Linked DNA regions of Homo sapiens. The protein of the gene in region 3 interacts with the protein of the main gene of each other region in a pairwise test. Each region holds a gene or a part of one and is shown on either strand. Other genes may lie near its edges. The genes, in order: OTUB2, CRY2 and MID1.

The links.
Region 1: the proteins of MID1 (region 3) and OTUB2 interact in binary tests that used the Homo sapiens proteins (3 or more experiments, as listed by UniProt).
Region 2: the proteins of MID1 (region 3) and CRY2 interact in binary tests that used the Homo sapiens proteins (3 or more experiments, as listed by UniProt).

What each region holds. Positions count from the first base shown.
Region 1 is NC_000014.9:94,024,093-94,027,692, forward strand, and holds the start of OTUB2 (ubiquitin thioesterase OTUB2), read left to right. Parts: upstream 1-2,247; 5' UTR 2,248-2,445; coding exon 2,446-2,448; intron 2,449-3,600. UniProt on the Homo sapiens protein: Hydrolase that can remove conjugated ubiquitin from proteins in vitro and may therefore play an important regulatory role at the level of protein turnover by preventing degradation.
Region 2 is NC_000011.10:45,864,351-45,868,172, forward strand, and holds part of CRY2 (cryptochrome-2), read left to right. Parts: intron 1-3,261; coding exon 3,262-3,402; intron 3,403-3,822. UniProt on the Homo sapiens protein: Transcriptional repressor which forms a core component of the circadian clock.
Region 3 is NC_000023.11:10,618,939-10,622,760, forward strand, and holds the start of MID1 (E3 ubiquitin-protein ligase Midline-1), read right to left. Parts: upstream 1,648-3,822; 5' UTR 1,352-1,647; exon of another isoform or gene 1,209-1,351; intron 903-1,208; exon of another isoform or gene 763-902; intron 1-762. UniProt on the Homo sapiens protein: Has E3 ubiquitin ligase activity towards IGBP1, promoting its monoubiquitination, which results in deprotection of the catalytic subunit of protein phosphatase PP2A, and its subsequent degradation by polyubiquitination.

The DNA.
Region 1 (3,600 bases), on a different chromosome or scaffold from region 3:
GATGACGTCAACCCCGGAGAGCTCTCTGGGTCTGACCAGGCTGAGAAGGGCCAGACCGTGAGTGGCATGGGCAGCAGAACCCAGCCCTCAAATCTTGGGCATCTAGTACCCAGGTACACAGGTCCTTTGCTGGAAGACAGGACACCCAAAGCCTCCTGCTTCTCTGGACTTGTGAAGCCCCAGCTGCCATTCCCCGATCCCTCCACCCAGACACCTGGACAACAGGGAGAAGGGGTGCAGGAAGGTTGGAGCAAATTCATTCCAGACAGAACACACGGATCCCCTGCCATGGGCGGCCCCTAACGACGCTGTCTGCATTTTCGATGCAGACCCAGCTTGAAAACCCACTGAACCCTTCTGCAACTTTTTTCCTTCTAACCAGGCTTTAGAGAGCTTACGAGGAATCTTGATTAGTTAGACTAAGGAAATTACATTTTCCCTGCGAATTGAGCTAAATTTGAGGAAATATTCTGTTACGCATGCACTGAGATTCTTGTAAGATTGTGTGTGTGTGTGTGTGTTTAAAGCCTTCATTACTACAAATATTAAAACAAAACAAAACAAAACATTTTTAACCACCCAGATTGTCCAACCCTCTCACTGAGTGAGGAACCAGAAGACCAGAGAGGGCCTGGGCATTGCCTGGGGTCACACAGCAGTGAGTGGCAGAGCCCAAGGGCCCAGAATTCCTCATGGACTCCAGCCCAGTGCTCCTTCCACACTCCCATGCTGGCTTGGTTTGGAACTGCTGGGGCCTGAAGAAGGGCAGAGAGTGAGCCCAGGACTCGGGGCTTAGTGCAGCCAAACTTGAGGGCTCATCAAAGCCTTGGCTGAAAAGACTCTTCACCCATACCCCTCACTCAGACACCATGGAACCTGGCTCAGTCATTCCTCCACAGAGGGAAGCTAACACGCCTTGGAATGAGCACTGGTTGGGGAGTCAGGAGTCCAGGGATCCAGCCCAGCCAGGCCACTTCTTAGCTCAGCAGCACTGGGCTGCTCCTGTCACCTCTCTGGCTTCCTTGGCGGTTAAAAAAAAAAAAAGAGCGAGAAACCCCCCGAAAACAAATGGGGGTCAGGGGCGGAGGCAGGTAACACAGCCCCTGTAGTCACATGCAGAGTGAATTCGAAACCAGCTCTGGAGTCACACTGCCTGGGACTGAATCCCACTTCAGTGCTATGTGACTAAGGCAAGGAACGTAAACTCTCTGTACATGTTTCCTCATCTGTGAAACAGGGATAATAATAACAGGACCTACCCCCTTAAACCAGTTGTGAGGAAATTAAGTAAGATAATTCTGTATATGTGGAGAGTTCAGGATAGCGCCTGATACATAGTAGGTGTTCTGCATAACTGTGTAAATAACTGTAAAAAATTACCTGCTATTGTTACTGCTCCTTGAGCCTCCATTGACCTCACACTCCCTGCCCAGGACATGATACATGCTTGGAAGACTCAGATGTCTGTATGCCCAGAGCCTAGCCCAGTACCTGGGACTTACGTAGTAAGAGTGGGGCGCGGGGGGCGGGGGCGGGGGGCAGCAGCAGGAAGGGGAATTGCTCAATACACGCTCCTGGAAATATTAATTTTTTGAAGTGGATGCATGCAATGCACTGAGCCCCCCTCCCCTACAAACTCTCCCTCCCACACCCAAGCAGCTCCTCCAGGACTCAAGGGCTGGTGAATGAATCTTTGAATGATAAATATTCCTATTTTGATGTCCATTAATAATGAGCTTGTAGGCAAGATGAGTCATCTAGACCTGGTTCACGGATATCCCTACAATTCCAGAGCCACAGAGTCAACGATCCTGGACATTCATTCATTCAACAAACATTAACTGGGTGCGTGGCAACCTACTGATTCATGAGTTGGAAGAGGATAAAATATTATATAGAAGCCATACTTAATGTTATTGGACACGTGTTCCCTAAGCGCCTATCCTCTGATCTTGTGCAAACTATACTTATGTGACCTTGTTTATGAATTAATGACGGCCAGCTAATCCTTCAGAAGACTCCAATTTTAGGTTTGCGCAAAAGCCCTTCAGCCTTTACAAACGAGGACCTGTCTTTCTGGGTTGAGCTAACTCCTCTGCTAGTTAAAAGCTTTCCTGTGTCTTTAAAAGGGGGAGGCATCCTATCAAATGGACCCTAACGCATAGGCTGAAGGCACGTGAAGTCCCACCCACTTTCTATGACGTCCCGCGTCCCGGCTTCTGATTGCCCGCCTGAGACGTCAATCGCAGGGCGTGTGTCTTGCTGGGACACAGTGGAGGTCTAACCTTTGGTTTGCGGAGCGGTCGGGTGTATTCTCCGCCGCCCCCACGCCCTCGAGGTCCCCGCCACCGAACCAGCGGCGGAGCCCGCCCGCGCCTCCCGCGGCATTCCCGCACCGGATCGCTCCTCGCTGGGGCGGGACCTGGCCTGGCGGCTCTGGTCACTATGGTCAGTGATCGTGGGGGATCGCGAAGGGGGAGCGGGCAGGGGGCGCGGTGGGCGGGGTCGCTGCCGGAGCGGGTGCACCCGCGGGACGGGGGTCGGACGCGAGGCTCAGCCCCCAGCTCGCCCCCGCCGCTTTCCGACCCCCTGAAATACGGAGTCCGGACGGATACTGAGGGCCAAGTCGCGCCCCCCTGTACCCCGTGGATGTGCAGCTGAGGAGGTCCAGCTCGGCCCCGAGCCCCCGCCCCCAGCGTGTCCGCCCCAGGTGGCCCGGGGCGCCGCCTCGACGGCGCTGGGTGGGCGCCCTCGACGGAAGCAGGGACAGGGAGGCTGCAGCACTACGGGTCGCCTCCTCTTTGTTAAGTAGCCCCCCAGTCAGCAGTCCACGGCCCCACCCACCCGACGGCTCGGCCGTCAAAGACCTCCTGGCCCCTGCCCCAACCCCAAGGGAGGATCTAGGGGTTGCACGGGGCACCAGGTCGTCTGCTCCGTGGGCGACTAGACCGTCTCCATCTTTGGAGTCAGGACCCACCTAGAGAGGATGCCTCAAGTTGTGAGGCGCATGAGTTAGGGGTCGGGGAAAAGAAAATACTCAGGAATCCCTGATGGAGAGCCTTGTCTGCGCAGAACGAGGCCCAGAGACCCTCTGAGCCAGGCTAACCCTGGGCTTGGGCAGGTGGGGAAACTGAGGCCAGACAGGGCAGGGCTGGTACTGATTGTGGTGGACCTGGGGCTTGAACCCAGGCTCTGGACTCTCAGTTCAGTGCTCTTTGTGTTACATCGGCTCACCTTCCAGGTTGCCGTGGGGTCAGGCATCCTGCAGGGGACTGGGTGGCATGGCTGCCTAAGACCCTTCAACCCTGAGCAGGGGGAGCCTGTGGAGTGAGGGCTGGGTGGCTTGAGTCGGGGCCACACAGCCCCAGGTTCAAGTCTCACTTCCACCTGTTGGAAAGCGAAGAGGCTTTGGTTGGTCCGCTCTCCCCCTCAGCACCGTTTTGCACATCTGTGTCATGGGAACCATGTGATATGATTAGCTGGAGCTTTTCCTGTGACAACAGAGTCCTGGAAATGGGTGTGCACAGATGCCTGGTTCTTCAAGCTTAGCCTCCTCTCTCCTATGACTGGGCAGGAAAATGGGTCACCACGGCAGCATGC
Region 2 (3,822 bases), on a different chromosome or scaffold from region 3:
AGTGACTCACACCTGTAATCTTAGCACTTTGGGAGGCCAAGGCAGGAGGATCTCTTGAACCTAGGAGTTCAAAACCAGCCTGGGCAACATGACAAGCCCTCATCTCTAAATAAAAACAAATTAGCCGGGTGTGGCAGCATGTGCCTGTAGTGCCAACTACTTGGGAGGCTGAGGTGGGAGAATCACTTAAGCCCAGGAAGTCATGCCACTGCACTCCTGCCTGGGTGACAGAGAGTGGGGTCTCAGAAATAAAAGAAAAAGAATCCCAGCACTTTGGGAGGCCGAGGCAGGTGGAGCACTTGAAGTCAGGAGTTCGAGACCAGCCTGGCCAACATAGTGAAACCTCATCTCTACTAAAAATACAAAAACTAGTTAGGCATGGTGGCGAGTGCCTGTAATCCCAGCTACTTGGGAGGTTGAGGCACGAGAATCGCTTGAACCTGGGAGGCGGAGGTTGCAGTGAGACGAGATCATGCCACTGCACTCCAGCCTGGTTGACAGAATGAGACTCTGTCTCAAAAAAAAAAGAAAACTGAGTAGCTGGGATTACAGGCTCCCACAATCATGCCTGGCTAATTGTTGTCCTTTTAGTAGAGACAGGGTTTCACCCTGTTGGCCTGACTGGTCTCAAACTCCTGACCGCAAGTGATCCTCCTGCCTCAGCCTCCCAAAGTGCTGGAATTACAGGCATGAGCCACCACACCCGGGCAGAAATAAAGTTTTTTAAATGGCCAAGACTAAATTGTAATACCTAGGAATGCACATTTGGGTAAAAAAAAAAAAGCTACTTAAACACAAAGAATAACTGTGAAAAGATAAAGTCCTTCCTTTCAAACGTTTTGCCAAAATAGAAAAATGTAAACATTTCAGAAATGCAGAACGTGTTTATTATAAAAGCTGAGGTAGGGGTTGCATATACTGGGGGGCAGGAGGGAACTATTCCTGGGATGAGCACATAGACTCTTGGGGTGGCTGTCAAAGCTCTGTTTCCCAAACCTTGGTGGCTATTGCGTGGATGTTTGCCTTAGAATAATTCATTAAGTCACACATGTGTGTGATTTTCTGTATCCAAGTTTCATTTAAAATAAAAATATTTTAAAAGCTGGGGGCTAGCAAGGGTGTGTACACGCAAAAATACCTAGTATCTGTTAGAAGTGCTTAACCTGATACCACAGGGGTTACCTGCAGAGGAGGAAGCCTTGAGGTTGCGACTTGAAGGAAGAGTCTCAGTTAACCAGGTGAAGGTGAGGGAAAGGAAGACAGTGGTCCAGAGGCAGCTGCTTGTGCAGAGGCAAAGGCCAGTGAGAGCAGATGCGTAAAGAAGAGGGGCAGCAGGAGGCGGAGGGTACAGTGAGCCGAGATCACACCACTGCACTCCACCCTGACCCTGTCTCAAAAAAAAGGGGCAAGAGACAGAGCTGGAAAGGCCTGGGTGCTGGGGAGCCACAGAAGCTTTCATGAAGATTTGGGCTCTGTCCTCAGAGCAACAGGAAGCCCACTGTGTACATTATCCCGAGCAACAGGCATTACATTACTCTGGTCCCAGCGTGGAGAATGAGTTAGCGGGGGATGGGAGTGGACGCAGGGAGGCCAGTCAGGAGGCTGCCACAGTTGTCCAGTCTAGATATGACCTTAGCCTGAACCAGGTTGGTGGCAGCAGGGAATGGAAAGAAAAGGACAGATTTGGGAAATATTTAGGCAGTAGAATTGACAGGACTTGGTGAGGGGACAAAGGTGATGGCTAGGATTGTGCCTTGGGCAGCTAGGTAGCTAGCAGTGTATTATCTGAGGTAGGGAGGCCAATGGAAGGGTGGGTTAAAAGAAAAGGGCACATCTCCCTTGAGCTGCCTGAGAGGCAGCCAAGTAGAGGTTTCTAGCAGGCAGCTGGGTGGAGCAATCTGGGCTAGAGCTATGGATGTGGTGGTTGTCTGCAAAGGGGTGGAACTGGGAGCCATGGGCCTGGATGAGCTTGCTGAGGCACACAGTTGAGTAGAGAACCTAGAGCTGAGCCCTGGGTACCCACATTTAAGGGAGAGGCAGAGGAGGTGGAGCTGATGAAAGACCAAGAGCGCCAGGCAGCTGGGAGATACCAGGAGATGTGGAGTCACAGAGGCCAAGGAATCAAGAGGATAAGACAGCACAGTTGGCAGGTATAGCGCTGCTGAGAGATCCCAAAATACAAGGTCAGAAAGTGCCTGCAGGACTCAGTGGCACAGAAGTCACAGGAGACTCTTGTGGGAACCAGCCTTGTGGTCACCTGAGGTTTGGAGTTAGAGACCAGCCTGGCCAACATGGCGAAACCCCATGTCTACTAAAAATACAAAAATTAGCCAGGTGTGGTGGCAGGTGCCTATAATCCCAGCTACTCAGGAGGCTGAAGAGAGTCAAGGTTGTGAAACAGTATCATGGAGAGGAGGAGAGGATGTTGGGAGTTAAGAAAGTGGAAATAGGCCGGGCACAGTGGCTCACACCTATAATCCCAGCACTTTGGGAGGCCAAGGTGGGCGATCAGGAGAATCCCTTGAACCCGGGAGGTGGAGGTTGCGGTGAGCCGAGATCACGCCACTGCACTCCAGCCTGGGTGACAAGAGCAAAACTCTGTCTCAAAAAAGAAAAAAAAATAAATAAAAAAAGTCGTGAGAGACTGCATGGAACAGCAAGTCAGGAAAGTAAAGTCCTATGCCAGCAACCAGTGATGATAAAAACATGACCAGTAATGTTATATGACACATGGCCCCAGAAATGAATGATTCCATTGGTCCCCAGGAATGGATTGGAAGTTTCCTCCTTCCCCAGCTGCTGTTGAACAATAATGCGAAGTCCCTGGTGTCTGTGATACAACCTCAGGGCCGCTAGTGACTAGAGAAGGGACTGAGATATTCTTTTCTGTAACATAGAAGCCTTGTTTCCTGCTGTATAATTAGAGAGTTCATTCAGTGCTTTCAGAATTCTTTCATATCTCATTTTAATCCACAGAAGATTGGAAATTTTGTTCTTATTTAATAGATACGTAGCTGAGGGAAGTAACAACGTGTTCACAGTCACCCCACAAATTAAAGAGCAAGTCAGAGAATGACATAGACTCGTTGTTTGGTCTGATGGTGGTTCCGTCTCAAAATCGGCTGGACAAGCACAGTGTTCCATGGCTCCATGGCTGGCTGTTCTGTGACCGTAGGCAGATTCCTTAACCACCCAATGCCTCCATTTTTTCCTCTGTTACATCCAAGCCTTTCCTTTTGCCACCTTCTCTTTCTGCTGTAGGCCTGGGTTGCCAACTATGAGAGACCCCGAATGAACGCCAACTCCCTCCTGGCCAGCCCCACAGGCCTCAGCCCCTACCTGCGCTTTGGTTGTCTCTCCTGCCGCCTCTTCTACTACCGCCTGTGGGACCTGTATAAAAAGGTAAGGGGGACATACCTGCCCACATTGCACCTAAGGCCTGCAGCCAGGCCTTTTGGGCTTGTCAGTCACCCTAAAAAAGGCACTGGTGGGTGGGGGTTGGGCTATGGCCCCTGGAAGGGCCTAAGTGTGTGCAGATAGTCCGGAGGAGGAGAGAAGACTCAATATCCAAGAGGGCAGAGCCAAGCACAGAGTGAACTGCCCACCAGAATGAAGCCCAGACCATCATGTAGAGCAGAAGGACAGGCAGAAAAGCAGGCCTCAGGTGTGACCCTAGAGGTGGCATATCCTCTGGCAGCTGGTGGACAGGGGCGAGGTCCCCAGGGTGAGAGGCATGGAGAGGGTGAGGCTGGAGCCAGTCTGAAGTGGAAGAGCATAGCTGCCCGCTCTGGAGCTGTGTCCACAGCATTCAAAAGGGGAGTC
Region 3 (3,822 bases):
ATCCCACTTTAGTAGACATTAAAAGTATGAGGTTGGACTGTGAGTTTGCAGAACTTAAAGACGTCCTCCCCACAGTCCCTACCAAGGCAAGGGCAATTCATTGCAAGCAGACGGCACTTGCTCCTCCGCAAGTGTTTTTCTGCACTCACTGAAACTTGCCAAGCCTGCTTGCTGAGCGAACAAGCGAGGGGGCAAGAAGGCGGAGGGTTTGCGCTGACCATTCGAAGGGGGCTCTGCTTCATCTCCCAAGGCTGTGGGAAAGGGACAGAAAGTTCGAAACCCCTCCCCTGCGCTCTTAAATGGAAAGCTCACTTCCCCCAAAGTGTGCAGGGTGGCGAGCACCCAACCCACTTAGAAGAAAAAGTGAAGAGCTTTTCCGGTTGCGATACAGATGCTAACTTTCCCATCCAGATTTATTCAGAGCTGGTAAAAGCAATAGCATTCCTCTTGAAATCCCTGCCCTTCCAAGCCTATTGGCATGTTTTTCCAGCCTTGTTTTCTCCTTATATGAGTATTGTTCTTGATATTTAAATATTGACATAAAATTCTTCCATAACTTTGATTGAGTTGTAAATCACACCCTCTCCTTGGCTTCCTACATCCACTTTTTCTTTCCTTTTCTTGCTTAACAGCAAAGCTATAAACCTCTTCCTGGACTGATAAGGAATTTTATCATCATGCCCCAGAGCCACAGAAGAAGCTGTTGGTTTAGAATTCTTTTCAAAGACTCATTTAAGTAATCCCCCAGCCCTTTCTCCGCTCACTACTTTCAGGGCTGCCTTCTCACGTCCAGAAGCAATACAGTTTCCAAACTGCTAGAACAGAAAAACAAATTTGCATTTTTCTGGAAGGACTGTCTGTGCTCATTTCAAGCTGGTTCCGCCTTCTCCGCCAGAAACACAGTAAGTGCTCAGAATGCGAAACCAAAATGAGATAAGAGGCCCCGTGAAATTCTTTTTCAGGACATTCAGCTGTCTTTATTCTAGCCCAAAGCATAGGGTAGAGGCACTAAAAGCTCGAGATACATCCTGCACGATACATTCCAGCGGCCGCAAACTGGAATTGATTTACATATATTCTACAAACTGCTTGTAAGCCCTTTACAACGACTGCCTGACATCAACCACAATTAGAGGCAAAAGTGGGGGCGGGTGGCGAGGACCAGACCGGGGTGGCTCAGGTAAAATGTGCTTCTTTGGTTGTCTTAGGAAAATGCAGCCCCGTCTTTCCGCCAAACGCATCGACTACGGCCAGGCGCCTGCTAACCCAGCAAGCTCTCCGCAGTAACACGTCGCAGGGGTCCCGGGCGGCGCCCGCCCCCTCCGCCGCCAGCGCAACCGCCTGAGCTTACCTGCCTCATGTTTAGAATCCCATGACCCATCCGGCAGGGAGCGAGCTGCATCGGAGCCCGCGTCGCAGTCTTCAGAGCGGAAACACCGAACCCGACAGGAGCCCGCAAGACAAAAGCAACCCGGCGAAATCTACGGGCAGCAAAGAGCACGTTTTCGTCCTCTTTTTCTTTGATCTGTTGCTACACGCACTCTGCTCGAGACAATGTCAAGTTTCTCAACCTTTTCTCCCCCAGCCTATGAAAAGTCGGTCGCAGGGAAGCGAGGACCGCCTGGCTCTTATTTCAAATCAGTTCTCAGAGACGTTGTAGGTGGCTGGCTTGGGCCGCGGAGGAGCTTCGCCAATCAGAAGCAAGGGGGTGGGTCCTGGGAGCCAGAAAGGCTGCCTCCGCGAGGATTAGGGGCGCTTTCGGGATTCAAATGACTGGAAGCAGCTGGAAACAATGTCCAAAGCTCCAAAAGTAAAGGATGAGTTCTATTCTTATCTAACAGCTCTAGTTCTGCTAAAAGCTTAACTAGCTAAGGGCCTTAAATCCTTGCATTTTAAGAGCTCCCTAACAGCATTAAAACATTTGGAAGGTGCAAAATTATTTCAGCCAGAAAAGTTCAACACTCAGGACCCAAGGGTATTTTTAAAAGGATATCTTGCACTGAAGCCCTACTTTTGCAAAAGACTGGAAAGGAAACCAAATTGTTATGAGTAACACCTTAACTAAAACGAACAATCCAGAAAGGAGGGTGTTACCTACCTCATCTGCATATAGATTAACTGTATATTCAATTTAAGAAAAATAAATCTTAATGGGAACGTGCACACAATTTTTTTGAAATGCAGCAAATGAACAAGAATCTTTACCTACTGAAGGCCCGAGGCATAATTTCAAATAACACTATTGTCATAGAACAATACACACTGACATTTTGTTCAGAAAAAAAAAAATTTAGTGCATCCACCTTTCTCTATGGTTTGGCTTCCCTACAGGGTTGATCTGTTGAACTTATTAACAGGGACAAGCTGGACATCACCTTGGCAGGATTGCAGGAGAGCTGGAGAAGTAGTTGGCTTCTTAGAAACAAACTCAGACCAAAAAAAATTTCCAAAGTTTGCTTTCTTAACTCCATATAAGCAATAACTTTTTTCAACTCTTAGCCAACATGATTTTAATGTAAATCTACCTTCTGGATTTCAAGAAAGTGCAAGTTGAGCAAAGAGTACTTTGTGTAGAACTAATGGCATATTTTCCCCCAAGAAATGACCGCAATTTTGTGACGATAATTCAATAAAGATTTTAAATGTGTTGGTATCAGAGGAAAAAAAATTACTTAGCAAATAATGCATTGGTGGCTTCAGGAGTGTCAGCTGCATGGGTTCAATACATGTGAGCTCTGCCCAGTTCTGTGAAAATTTGGTGGTCCGATAACTGGGCCTGGAAGCCCATAACGCTAGCCCCCTGCCTGAGTAGCCTAAGGAGCCACCTAGTGACACAAACTGACTTCAGTCCACTTCTTGTACTTTTCCTTGAGAGCCCTTCATATGATGGAGTTCAGGATTTCTCAATCTCAGCACTATTGACATTTTGGGCAGGATAATTCTTTGTCGTGAGGGCTGTCCTGTGCACTGTAAGATGTGTAGCAGCATCCCTGGATTCTGCACACTAGATGCCAGTAGCACCCCCACAATCGTGATGACCAATAATGTCTCCAGACATTACCAAATGTCTCCTGGGTGATGAAATCACGCTTTGAAAGGGTGGTTCTTAAACTTGAGGGTGCAAGGAAACCTCTGGGGAGATTGTTAAAAATGCAAATCTCCAGGCCCCTGCACCAAAATAATCTGATTCAGTAGGTTTGCTGAGGAGCCTGAGAATCAGCATTTTATCCCACTGACAAAGGACTCTGATTTACTTTGAGAAATATTGCGTCTATCCCAGCCCTAGGTATGCCCCAGCCACAGGACACAGGAAGCTACCCAGGGCTCCTGCCATTAAATACTGGAGCTTAATCCCATGGCACATCTGTTTATCACCTTCAGTAGAAGCTACAACTGCGTCTGCCTTCTGCTTTCATCACCTCAAAGGTAAATATGAGCTGGGATTTCCTCTCTCAAGGACTGAGCCCTTTTAATGTTCCTTCCATTTTTATTCTCCTTTGACTCACTCACCAACTATCCAACAATCTCAAATGTCACCACTCATTCGTGATTTCCCCAAATGCCCCAAGAAAAATTAATCCCTTCCATCTTCTATGCCCTTAAAGCAAAATACCCTTATAAAAGAGGTTTCAGAGAGCCTATTTGCCCCTTCTGCCATGTGAGGACACAGCAACAAGGAGCCACTGATGAAGCAGAGAGCCCTCGCCAGACACCAAATCTGCTGGCACCTTGATCTTGGATTTACCTGCCTCCAGAACTACGAGAAATAATTGTCTGTTGTTTATAAATGACCCAGTCTAAGGTACAGTATTTTGTTATAGC